Homo sapiens: one gene and its partner. The protein of the gene in region 2 interacts with the protein of the main gene of each other region in a biochemical or structural test. Each region holds a gene or a part of one and is shown on either strand. Other genes may lie near its edges.

Region 1 (8,658 bases), on a different chromosome or scaffold from region 2:
GAACTGTCCTCGGAAATGTTTTGCCTATTGTCCAGTGTCTGAAAACCATTGTTCCATATATTTGGTTCAGTTTGTAGTTATCTGAAATGGGAGAATAAATTTATTCCATTTTACTCTGTCATGACTAGCGGAAGTCTGTTCTTTCTATTTAGAAAGTTTTTTTAGAGATGATTAGAATGGCATAGTACTTTTAGCTAAATCATCCAAGAAAGGTTGTGTGTCATTTGCTCCATATGAAGTGAAGTCTAATTCTGAACTTTGGAAGCCTTTCGTTATCAAACTCCTAGTTTATCAGATGCAGATTAAAAGGATTTATGTGTGTGTGTGTGTGTGTGTGATATACACACACATGCATATACAGAGGTATCTGTACATATTACATATGTACATATCGTAAAAGATGAAAATATATATCTTTTTATTTTCTGAAATTCTTTGACCCAGACTCAGGTAGCTAGTAGGATTTCCCATAAATTATAAAGTTTAGATAGTTTAGTCCACAAGTTTACCCACTGTCAATTCTAGATTGTTTCAGATTTTAAGTTTGCTTGCTAAGATTGAAATTCTCATATCTCAGGGTTTGCCTTTAAAGTAAAAATGTACAGAGGCTCCTTTCGCTCTAAAGAGAATAAGCCTTTGATATAGCTGTTTGAATTTACAGGGAAATAACTTCTCAAATATTAGTAGTTCTAGTGGTATTTACTTGTTAACAAATACCCCACATTTAGACTATCTTTGCCCAACTGTCTTTTCTTTTTTCTCTAACTTGTTGTAGTTGCAAATGAAGGGTAAAAATAATTGATTTATAGATGTGCTTATCATTTGTCGATCCAGAGTTTTATGAGGATTATTTTTAGTTCAAATTAAGAATTTCAGAGAGAGTGAAGATCTATGCTATAATCTTTACTATTTTGTAGTAACGAGTCATTTTATTTTTATTTTTTTATATGAAGGAAAGTTTATTAAGGATTATTGACTTATGATCACAAGGTGAAGTCCCACAAGAGGCCATCTGCAAGCTGAGAAGCAGGAAAGCCAGTCCGAGTCCCTCATTTTTAAATACTGTGTTTTCATAGAGAAACCACGAAAAGAACTGATCAAATTCATCAACTTTAGAGTACTTATATAATTAATGTATATTTTTAAAATATACCCAAATTGAAACAATGGTTAATGGTCATAAATCAAGTAAAATATTAATGTCTTCCTTTATAATTTTTTTTTAGTACAACACCTCAGGTATTGAGCCCCACTATTACATCTCCCCCAAACGCACTGCCTCGAAGAAGTTCACGACTCTTTACTAGTGACAGCTCCACAACCAAGGTAATTTAAAGATTTCTGTATGTCACATTTACTTAATGCTTCGCCTGCTAACATTTCTGTTCATTGATGACTCCATTCCTAATAAGTTAACAAAGAGACTATTTCGAATTTTAAAATGTTTTAATTTAGAGGGCCATCTATGATTTTTGTGAAGTTAATTAGTCCTTTGGTAAATATTATATAATATTCTTTTTTAATTAAAAAATTTTTTTTCTCAAGTTAAAAATGACATAGGAATAATCTTGAAATGGCAAAATTATAGGAATGGACAACAGATCAGTGATTATTAGGAGTTAGGCCTCTAGGGAGGATGTTACTATTAAATCATGGCACAAAAGAATTGCATTGTGGTGGTACAACAGTCCTGTATCCTGATTGTGGTGGTTGATTACACAGATCCATTCACGTGATAAAATTTTATAGAACTATGCACACACATACACACACACGGGTTTATATAAAAACTGATGAAATCCATGTAAGGTCTTTAGCTGATAATATTGTACTAATTTCAGTTTCCTGGGTATGATGATATACTATGGTTATGTCACATGTTATCATTTGCAGAAGAGTGAGTCTAAAATTATTTGAAAATAAAAGTTAAAAAAAACTGGAGACCCGGCGGACGCAGTGGCTCACGCCTGTAATCCTAGCACTTTGGGAGGCCAAGGTGGGCCGATCACTTGAGCTTAGGAGTTTGAGACCAGCCTGGTCAACATAGCAAGACCCCATCTCTGAAAAAAAAAATTAGCTGGGATGGTAGTACTCTTTGATCCCAGCTGCTTGGGAGGCTGTGGTGGGAGAATCACTTGAGCCTGGGGAGGTCAAGGCTGTGGTGAGCTCTGATTACATCATTACACTCCAGCACGGGCAACAGAATAAGATCCTGTCCCAAAAACAAAACAAAGGCCGGGCACGGTGGCTCATGCCTGTAATCCCAGCACTTTGGGAGGCCAAGGCAGGCAGATCACCTAAGGTCAGGAGTTCGAGACCAGCCTGACCAACGTGGAGAAATCCAGTCTCTTCCAAAATAAAAATTAACCGGGCGTGGTGGCTCATGCCTGTAATCTCAGTTACGCGGGAGGCTGAAGCAGGAGAATCGCTTGAACCCGGGAGGCAGAGGTTGGGTTGCGGTGAGCTGAGAATTACATCTACTTATTTTCTTACTTTTAAATAATAAATGAGAGTTTGATATACTTTCACAAGAGGGCTACACTTAATGCTGACACACCTTAGTCACTATTAGTTAATGTAATTTATGTTCAGAATTACTGTGTTTAAAATTAAATGACTTTGAAGACCTTTGTTTTTATAAACTCTCTTCTGAAAAAAATATAGAATTAATCAAGATTGTACATTTATTTTATATCTAATACTGGAGAAAGGGCTGAGGAGAAATCTAAAATACATGAGTATAACAGGTGTGAAATTTCTTCCCTTTTACAGGAGAATAGCAAAAAATTAAAAATGAAGTTTCCACCTAAAATCCCAAACAGAAAAACAAAAAGTAAAACTAATAAAGGAGGAATAACTCAACCTAACATAAATGATAGCCTGGAAATTACAAAATTGGACTCTTCCATCATTTCAGAAGGGAAAATATCCACAATCACACCTCAGATTCAGGCCTTTAATCTACAAAAAGCAGCAGCAGGTCTGTTTTAAATGCTTAATATTATCTTTGTATTTTATTATGTACTTATTTTAAGTAAATTTCTTTATGTTCATTACAGTACCTTCATTGTTTTTTATATAGATGTTGGAATTTTTAATAGATTAGTTTGTAATTACCTTTTCTAGAGAAGCAGACTAGTTTATTGCGTTTTTTCCTTTGTTTACTATGTTGTTTTCTCCTAGAAGGTTTGATGAGCCTTCTTCGTGAAATGGGGAAAGGTTATTTAGCTTTGTGTTCATACAACTGCAAAGAAGCTATAAATATTTTGAGCCATCTACCTTCTCACCACTACAATACTGGTTGGGTACTGTGCCAAATTGGAAGGGCCTATTTTGAACTTTCAGAGTACATGCAAGTAAGTATAGAAAATGGTTATATATGCCTTTCTAGAGATAATTTCAATTTCATTAAAATAAATGCCCATGCTTAAGAAGGCTAGATCTAAAAGATCAGTATTTATTATGTAATGTCTATATATTTATTTTGTCAGTATTTATAATTTATAGATATAGTTCTTTCTTGTGTTAAGGAGTAATTTAAATTCTTTGCAACTTCTCGGAATAGGTTTATAGAGACCCAAGTCATCCAGACATTCTTACGTAGAGTGTGTCCTATTCAGTTGTGTCTGAAAATACATATTTATATTTACCATGTAATAGGATTTATTTATTTTTCTGCAATATACAGAGTTAATTACTGGGGTGAATTTTTGACATCGAATATGTTTTATAAGCTTGAAGAATGCTATAAAGAAAATTGTGCTGAATTGAGGACACAATGTCTTTAATACAAGGCTTTTTACTCTTTGGATTTTAATTAAATTTGTTGCTTAAGTTATCTGTCTATACCAGAAAAGGAGAGAATGATTAACCTAAAGCCAAAGAAAATTCTAATTCCCAATTTATATTACCCCTTAGTTCTTCCCAAAGCATTTTCTCCACCCCCAACTTAAAAAAAGAAACCTTTTAGAAACCTATATATTAATAAAATATCTCTAATATGGATTAAAGTTGATATGATTCGTTTTTTGCTTAATTTGCTTTCAGTTCATTTATTCAATATATATCTCTGTGCATATGATATCCTGGACTCTCTTCTAGACTCTGTATTACAGCTAGTCAGACAATTTCTTGCCTCTGTGGAGCTTACATTCTAGCAACAGACAGATTATAAGCCAATAAATGTATAAGAACAGGTAGCAATAAGTCATGAAGAAAAATGAAGCATGGTGAGGAAACTGGGAGACAATGAAGTATGGTGTTTTTGTTTTTATGTACTCAGAGGGAAGGTTACTCTTCCCTTCATGATCCATGCAAAGATCTAGGGGAAAGGTGTTCTTTCCCACAGGGAATACATACAGAGGATACCTATTCATATAATTTAATTTTGAATAGTACAGAACAGAGAGTTGAAGACAGAAAGTCTTATTCATTGCTACAAAACCCATGTTTCGATTATGGTCCTTTACTGGTATGTAGCATATACACAGACAGGCAAGAGCTGTGTTCGGAAAAGCCATTTAAAAAATTATTTCTAATTTATTGTTTCACAGCTACTTTAACATAAATGAATTTTATTGTTTCCCCTAGTTATAGTGGTGACCCAAATATTTAATTAAAGAAAGCCTCTGTTTCAACTTAATTTCTGAGTTTTTTTCCCATTTTTCTTTTTGTCTATGCCATAATCATTTTTCAGAGGAAGCAACAGATTCTGAAAACTTTGAAACCAAAAGGTACCTACCTATATTTGGCTGGTAGGTCTTTTATCTTGTTACCATGCCTGAATGAAAAACTTGGCCAGGTGTGGTGGCTCATGCCTATAATACCAGCACTTTGGGAGGCCAAGGAAGGGGGATCACTTGAGCTCAGGAGTTGGAGACCAACCTGGCCAATGTGGTGAGACCCTGTCTCTACAAAAAAATGAAAAAATTAGCTGGGTGTGGTGGCACTCACCTGTGGTCCCAGCTACTTGGGAGGCTGAAGTGGAAGGATCACTTGAGCCCTGCAGGTCAAGGCTGCACACTTACCTTTATAACTTTTAAGAGATTGCAAGGAAGTTACAAATCGTTAAGCTATTCCTATATATCATATGACCACTTCTTGGAATTAAGCACTCAGTTTTAAAATGCTCTTATTTTCTGTCATACTCATTTCATTAAGAATAGTCCAGATATTCCTTATTATAAACTAAACTGTGAAAATTTCTTTTCCTTTCTTTTTTTTTTTATTACCTAGACCTTTTCTGGCAGCTGAGAATTTTGAACTTGGTAAATTGATAAACTAGGAAACTGATTTTATATAACCTAAATCCTCAAACTTTAGAGGGAGAGAAACACAGTTCTGGGAGCTGTGAATGTGATGAGGAAAAAAATTGATGAGGCAGCTGAGGAGAGACCCTGAAGTCAAGAGAGTGCTGCAAAGGAAAGGATAATTAATAGGTAGGGCCTATGATTCCTAGCAGACACAATATTGGTGTGTATATTCAGGGCTCAATAGGATTTATAACCATAGGATTGATAGCCAGCTTAACCTGTTTCTTCCCTCTAAATTTTCTGGCACAACCTCTCGGTAAAAATTGTTCAAAAATAGATTTTATGTTACAGAAATCATTCTTCCATCATCTTTCCTAAAAGAGTTATTCTGGCCAGGTGTGGTGGCTCATGCCTGTAATCCCAGCACTTTGGGAGGCCGAGGCGGGTGGATCACAAGGTCAGGAGATCGAGACCATCCTGGCTAACATGGTGAAACCCTGTCTCTACTAAAAAATACAAAAAATTAGCCAGGTGTGGTGGCAGGCGCCTGTAGTCCCAGCTGCTTGGGAGGCTGAGGCAGGAGAAGGGCGTGAACTCGGGAGGCGGAGCTTGCAGTGAGCCGAGATTGCGCCACTGCACTCCAGCCTGGGCGACAGAGTGAGACTCCATCTCAAAAAAAAAAAAAAAAAAGAGTTATTCTGTAATGCCATTATTAAAACTTGGAAATGAGGTTTTTGAGAAGGAAATATTGACTTTTCTTTTGAATTGTAGCTTTGTATAGATTTCTCTTCGGTCTTTTTGGTAGAAACTCAAATTTCCTTTTCAGAGTTCATGTTCTTACCATGGCTTGTATATAAATACTAGGTTGACTGTCAATATGGTTACATCACTATTTGACCTGCCATAGTAGATTGCTGAATTTGTCCTTGTGTTAATACTCATTCACATAAAAACCATAATACAAGGCAGCATTTAGATCCTGTGAAGATAATGACCAGGGCTTTCCCTGTGTATATATATAAATTGTATCAACTTGTTTTCTCTTACTAGTTTTTTTTATTTCAGGCTGAAAGAATATTCTCAGAGGTTAGAAGGATTGAGAATTATAGAGTTGAAGGCATGGAGATCTACTCTACAACACTTTGGCATCTTCAAAAAGATGTTGCTCTTTCAGTTCTGTCAAAAGACTTAACAGACATGGATAAAAATTCGCCAGAGGTATGTTAACCAAAATACTTTGCTTATATAGTTACCTTTTTGATCACCCTCAACAGATAGAGATGAACCAAGCAATTCAAACACTATTTAGTGTCACCCACGCTTATTTCTTTTTTTTCCTCTCTCTCTAGTCAGGGACTCAGAGAGGAAGAGAAAGTCCTAGAATGTGTGGTGCAGATTCACAAATAGAAAAATCACAAAGCAGCTATTTCATTCAGGATTTATCGAGATTTGACTACGTTAAATTTGCTGTTGTCACCAAGATTAGGGTTCGTTGAGCAGAAGTTACATAGATTGAAAAAATTAATAATTTTAAATTAAAATAAATTAGTATTGTCATTGTAAGACATAGGTGCAATTAATGTACATGCTCTAATCTTGTAAGATTGTATTTCATTGCATCTCAAAAATATTTAATGATACTTTTGTAACATATCTAAGCTTAGAATTAAACACAGTCAACTCCCATTATTTGCGGTAATTCTGTAGTCAACATGAACACTGAATTAGTGCTACTGAACCAATGTTCCTGGGAGTGATGGAGAGTTTGAAACAGAGATAGATTGTGGATTATAATCTTGAATCCTAAAAATAACTCATCCTGGTAGATCCTATTTTCTTTACAAAAGAGAGAATGCTGCTGGGTGTGGTGGCTCACACCTATAATCCCAGCACTTCGGGAGGCTGAGGCAGGCGGATTCCTTGAGCTCAGGAGTTCCAAGACCAGCCTCGGCAACATGGCAAAACCCTTCTCCACAAAAAATACAAAAATTAGCCAGGTATGGTGGCTGGCATCTGTGGTCCCAGCTGCTCGGGAGGCTGAGACAGGAGGATCACTTGAGCCTAGGTGGCGGAGGTTGCATTGAGCCAAGATCACACCACTGCCCTCCAGCCCGGACAACAGAACAAGACCAGATCTCAAAAAAAAAAAAAGAGAGAGAATGAGGTTCAGAGGTGACTTGCCTGAAGCCATCCTACTTAAAAGTGCCAGCAGTGGGATTCAAATTCTGTCCAACTGTCCCCAGAGCCAAAGCTTCTTGCACTACACTAAACTAGCCCACAGAGTTTCTGTCCCTGGTCATCTCTGCATGAGAGCTAAAACAAGAAGGTAGAGTCACATTATTCAACCTCAAATGAGAACATACCTTTTGATGACTATGAAAGCACTGCAAGTATTGATTTTGGTTTTACAAATAAATTTTAGCAATCAGACAAATTCACAAATATGGAATCTGTGAATAATTAGAATTGAGTATCTACTGAAGCTCCTCCATTTTTGTCTTTCTGTTCTAAGTTGAGGCTTGATTTTAGTCATAGATTTGGTTTTAGAAAAAGTAAAATTTTAATTCTGTTTGGTTTTTGTTCCCATTTTTTTAAGGCCTGGTGTGCTGCAGGGAACTGTTTCAGTCTGCAACGGGAACATGATATTGCAATTAAATTCTTCCAGAGAGCTATCCAAGTTGATCCAAATTACGCTTATGCCTATACTCTATTAGGGCATGAGTTTGTCTTAACTGAAGAATTGGACAAAGCATTAGCTTGTTTTCGAAATGCTATCAGAGTCAATCCTAGACATTATAATGCATGGTAAGTGGTAATGAAGTACAAAGACAAAGTCGTATTGATGGTGCTGGTACTTACTAATTTTTCTTGTTAGATAGCTCTTTATTATCATGAATTTGGTTACTTATACTTAGGGATGGTACATACTGGTCAATAACTTCTAACTAAAATGTTTTCTTATGAAATGTACGTCTTTAACAAACTCTTAAATTAACTAATGATAATAGAATACCAGATCCTTATACTCAACAGTTTCAGCCTTCTACCAAACTTTTGCAGATACTGTAGTTGTTTTTTGTTTGTTTAGTTTTGTTACTTTGTTGCTTTTTCTTCGAACACCGAAATGGTGATTGGGATGAAAAGTGCTTGGGAAATTGGAAAGGAATAGCATAATTCACTTATTGGATAATAGGAAAAAAAATTGAAAAAATTTACTAGTTGCTGCTTTTTGACAGTGTTCTGGTTTATTGAGTTACTATTAAGAACTTAGTGTACCCTTTTATTTAGCAGTATCTCTATTTTACTTTTTTGTACTTGTGTATAAGTAGACACATAGGAAATTACTACCTAGGTCATATTGTTATCAACTGAATAAGATATGAAAAAGTTTGGTCCTATTTCTGCC
Region 2 (5,007 bases):
TGAAGTCAAAATGGGAAATTTTTGTACGACTGTGTAAAACTAGCTATTTTACTGTTGATATCTCATTACGAGACAAAACAGTTATATAGAATTATGTGTCAGATTGATATGAATAATTTTTTTTTTGAGGCACAGTCTCGCTCTGTCGTCCAGGCTAGAGTGCAATGGCTCGATCTTGGCTCACTGCAACCTCTGCCTCCTGGGTTCAAGTGATTCTCCTGCCTCAGCCTCCCGAGTAGCTGGGATTACAGGCATGTGCCACCATGCCCGGCTAATTTTGTATTTTTAGTGGAGATGGGGTTTTTCCACGTTGGTCAGGCTGGTCTCGAACTCCTGACCTCAGGTGATCCGCCTGCCTCAGCCTCCCAAAGTGCTGAGATTACAGGTGTGAGCCACTGTGTCCTGCCCCATATTGAATCTTAAGAGGGTATGCAGAAGCCAACATACAGCTAATTCCTGTTTCTGAAGAAGCTGTTCCTTCCTCATGCTCAAGATCTCTTTTTGCCAAGCCCTGGGAGGGAGGACGGAAGGTAGCGGAAGCCTTATTTTCTCCAGGTAGTTACTTCCTTTTACCATTTAATCAAAAGTTTTAGGATTTTTCCTAATACAATGTGCTGGGTTGGGTTTGGTGGGATGTGGCATAGTGAATCTAAAAGAAGCTGCTTTGGATTCTGGCTGAGTTGAACTTAAATCCAGATTTGGCCATTGACTTAGCTGTGCAGCCTTGGCAAGTGACACTTGCTCTGAGCTTCAAGTTCCTTTTCTATATTAGGGGGTATTACGTATCTTGCTGTGTTATTCAGAGGATTATAATTCATGCCTGTGAGTGACTGGCACAAGAGAAGACAGATGACAGATCAGCAACTGGGACCATCTTTGAGCCCAAAGCATAGTAACAGGCGTTGTGGACGATGCAACATAATGACTGACAAAAAGGTATAGAGAGGGAGGTACTCTCTTTAAAAAATTGTGAGAGTCTTATTCTTGGTAAGACTAAAATAGCAGCTAAGTGATCAATGAGAAAGGTGCTTCAAAAAGCATTTTTGTTTAATGCTAAGATCACTTCAGTTTCCAAGGTCATATAAAGAAACATCCAATTTAGAGAAAAAATTCTGTAATAAGTTCAAATACCAAAGCGTAAAGATGATGTAACACAGTGCCTATGCTGCATGGTTACACAAATGAAACGAGAAAGGTAGTGATTGCTTCTAAATTCTCACTGAAAATCCAATTTAAAGGTTTATTGCAGTCTAGGTATTTTTAATTTTTCCCTTGGTGATTATCAAGATGGTTGATGCTAATAAGTACTATTAAAAAACTAAAATGCTGTCGAATATGGAACTTCTTTTAGTTAAGAATTATTAATATAGAAAATGTGAGTTGGTGGACTGGTACTTCTTGTGCTCTGATTTTTATTTATTTATTTTCTTCTTTTTTTTGAGACAGTTTCGCTCTTGTTGCTCAGGCTGGAGCACACAGGCACGATCTCCACTCACTGCAACCTCCGCCTCCCGGGTTCAAACGATTCTGCTGCCTCAGCCTCCTGAGTAGCTGGGATTACAGGCGCCCGCCACCACGCCTGGCTAATTTTTTTTGTAGTTTTAGTAGAGACAAGGTTTCACCATGTTGGCCAGGCTGGTCTCGAACTCCCGATCTCAGGCAATCCGCCTGCCTCAGCCTCCCAAAGTGCCGGGATTACAGGCGTGAGCCACCACGCCCGGCTTTATTTTTTTTTTTTTGAGACAGAGTCTCGCTCTGTCACCCAGACTAGAGTGCAATGGTGTGATCTCAGCTCACTGCAACCTCCGCCTCCTGGGTTTAAGCGATTCTCATGCCTCAGCCTCCTGAGTAGCTGGGATTACAAGTGTGTGCCACCACACTGAGCTAATTTTTGTATTTTCAATAGAGACTGAGTTTCACCATGTCGGCCAGACTGGTCTTGAACTCCTGACCTCTAGTGATCCACTCACCTCAGCCTCCCCAGGTGCTGGGATTAAAGGTGGGAGCCACTGTGCCCAGTCTCCAATTTGCTTTAGAGGCAATAATGAGATGAATTATCAGGCAACTGGGATCTATTCCAAGTCCGAGATTTTCTTCTGCCTGGGCTATGTGACCATGAGCAGGTGTTTAACTTCACAGGGCTCAGGCTCTTAACCGACTGAATGAGGTCACCACCTCCCGTCAGGTAGAATGTGTTAAACATTTTGAACTCTTGAGATTAAGGCTAAATGCTACTGGGATTATATTTACTTATAATTAAGCAACTCTAAGCAGATCAGATGCAAGTTATTAATAAGGAACCAGACAAATGTTGTCTAAGGCAAAATTTGCATACAACGTAATAAATGATTATACCAGTTGTTTACTGTGGAAAGTGGGGTCCCATGAAGGAAAACAGCACATCTCTTAGCCTTCCAGGTTTTCCCCTATCATGGTATAAAAACTTACTTGAGGCCAGGCGCGGTGGCTCATGCCTGTAATCCCAGCACTTTGGAGGCCAAGGTTGGGGGGATCTCTTGAGGCCAGGAGTTCAAGACCAACCTGGGCAACATAGCAAGACCATGTCTCTTTAAAAAAAAATTGGCTGGGCAAGGTGGCTCACGCCTGTAATCCCAGCAATTTGGGAGGCTGAGGCAGGTGGATCACCTGAGGTCAGAAGTTCGAGACTAGCCTGGTCAACATGGTGAAACCCCGTCTCTACTAAATATACAAAAAATTAGCTGGGTGTGGTGGCGGGTGCCTGTAATCCCAGCTACTTGGGAGGCTGAGGCAGGAGAATTGCTTGAACCTGGGAGGTGGATGTTGCAGTGAGCAGAGATCGCGCCATTGCGATACAGCCTGGGCAACAAGAGCAAAACTTCGTCTCAAAAAAAAAAAAAAACTACTTAAATATCATTAAGATAAATTTATGTACTCCTATAAAGACAAATATCCCTTAAGTAAAGCCAGTCTACCATTTGTTTAGGAGAGATGGTTTTTAGATTCCCTTCTTCTAAAAAGTAATTTGACCTCTTCACTTCATCCCAAATCCCTGAGATTTTGAAAGGATAATGCCACCAATTTGGAGCTCTTTCAAAGGATTTATTTGCTACAGAATTGCTTGAGTCCACCAATGAGAAGAACTCAGGATTTCTGTGTTTAAAAGGATTTTGCTTACTGCTTTATTTTTACAAGTGCTGCCATATCCAAAAAGCACTTCTTTTTGCCAGCATTTGGCATGTCTATAAGAGGTTAGAAAAAGTCAGAATCTATAGAATTGATGTCTAAAAATAGGAAAAAAAAAAGAATATTTAAAAATTCCTCATTTGGATAGGTCCTGAGTTGAAAACACATTCATCTGCAAAATAACTTTTTTAGGTCAGAATGCTATATTTTTAACCACAGATGCTGACCTTGACCTTGACTGGTAAATATTTCCAGGCACCATATGGATGACAGGACAGACGCCATTCAGTTGGCCAAATCTGATATATGCCCTACTTGGCTTGTGAAAATTTTTGAGTATCTCTTAACCCCAAACCTCCTGGTTCTCTGAAACTGATTGTCTTAATCTGATTCCCAATACTTTTAAAAACAAATAAACAAAACATTCCCTGAAAGATCACACATATAAGTATTTGTTGCCTGTGAATAGATACAGAGAAACCAAGTACAAATGTGCATTAACAATTCAGTGACGTAGCTGTGGATCTCTGGATGGCTATGTAAGCTGTGAGAAAGTCCCCCACTGGCTTTGCACTTGCTGCGCACCAGAGGTGACCATCCAGGCAGTATCAACCTGAAGAGGGGGTGAATCCCAGCAGCTGCTCGATGGGCTTAAACCGCCACTCGTCAGCCTCCAGCTCTTCTACCAAACCAGCTAGTTTTTCCATCCGAGCAACTTGCTGATCTGTAAGGAGTCAAGGAAAGAATATTATGCAACAACGTATTACCCAAGAGACTGCCACCAGCCACCAAGATGATGACTGGTATAAAAATAATTTCTAGGCCGGGTGTGGTGGATCACGCCTATAATCCCAGCACTTTGGGAGGCCGAGGCGGGCGGATCACGAGGTCAAGAGATCGAGACCATCCTGGCCAATATGGTGAAACCCCATCTCTATAAAAATACAAAAAAAATTAGCTGGACGTGGTGGCATGCGCCTGTAGTCCCAGCTACTCGGGAGGCTGAGGCAGGAGAATCGCTTGAACCCTGGAGGCAGAGGTTGCAGTGAGCCGAGATCGTGCCACTGCATTCCAGCCTGGTGACAGAGTGAGAATCCGTCTCAAAAAAAAAAAATTTCTAGATGGATTTTTTTTTCTCCTCAAGATTCTCTCTCTTTTTTTGGGGGGTGGGGTGGGGGTGGGGAATGGAGTCTTGCTTTGTTGCCCAGGCTGCAGTGCAATGGCGCGATCTCGGCTCACTGAAACCTCTGCCTCGTGGGTTCAAGTGATTCTCCCGCCTCAGCCTCCTGAGTAGCTGGGACTACAGGCACCCGCCATCGTGCCCAGCTAAGTTTTTTATTTTTGTAGAGATGGGGTTTCACCATGTTGGCCAGGCTAGTCTCGAACTCCTGACCTCAGGTGATCTGCCTGCCTCAGCCTCCCAAAGTGCTGGGATTACAGACGTGAGCCACTGTGCCCGACCCTCAAAATTCTCATAATGGGGTCTTATTCTATGCTGGTCAGAAGCTTAATTTTTTTTTTTTTTTTTTTTTTTTTTTGAGACAGAGTTTCACCCTTATTGCCCAGGCTGGAGTGCAATGGTGTGATCTCAGCTCACTGCAACCTCTGTCTCCTGGGTCCAAGCGATTCTGCTGCCTCAGCCTCCCGAGTAGCTGGAATTACAGGCATATGCCACCATGCCTGGCTAATTTTGTATTTTTAGTAGAGATGGGGTTTCTCCATGTTGGTCAGGCCAGTCTCGAACTCCCGACCTCAGGTGATCCGCCCGTGTCAGCCTCCCAAATTGTTGGGATTATAGGCATGAGCCACCGTGCCCGGCCTATTTTTTTTTTTTTAAGTTGG

The links. The genes of interacting proteins can lie anywhere in the genome.
Region 1: the proteins of ANAPC16 (region 2) and CDC27 are reported together in a solved structure, tested with the Homo sapiens proteins (one study listed by BioGRID).

What each region holds. Positions count from the first base shown.
Region 1 is NC_000017.11:47,136,551-47,145,208, reverse strand, and holds part of CDC27 (cell division cycle protein 27 homolog), read left to right. Parts: intron 1-1,226; coding exon 1,227-1,326; intron 1,327-2,772; coding exon 2,773-2,980; intron 2,981-3,183; coding exon 3,184-3,356; intron 3,357-6,317; coding exon 6,318-6,470; intron 6,471-7,848; coding exon 7,849-8,057; intron 8,058-8,063; exon of another isoform or gene 8,064-8,658. UniProt on the Homo sapiens protein: Component of the anaphase promoting complex/cyclosome (APC/C), a cell cycle-regulated E3 ubiquitin ligase that controls progression through mitosis and the G1 phase of the cell cycle.
Region 2 is NC_000010.11:72,231,883-72,236,889, reverse strand, and holds the end of ANAPC16 (anaphase-promoting complex subunit 16), read right to left. Parts: intron 3,890-5,007; coding exon 3,774-3,889; 3' UTR 1,030-3,773; downstream 1-1,029. UniProt on the Homo sapiens protein: Component of the anaphase promoting complex/cyclosome (APC/C), a cell cycle-regulated E3 ubiquitin ligase that controls progression through mitosis and the G1 phase of the cell cycle.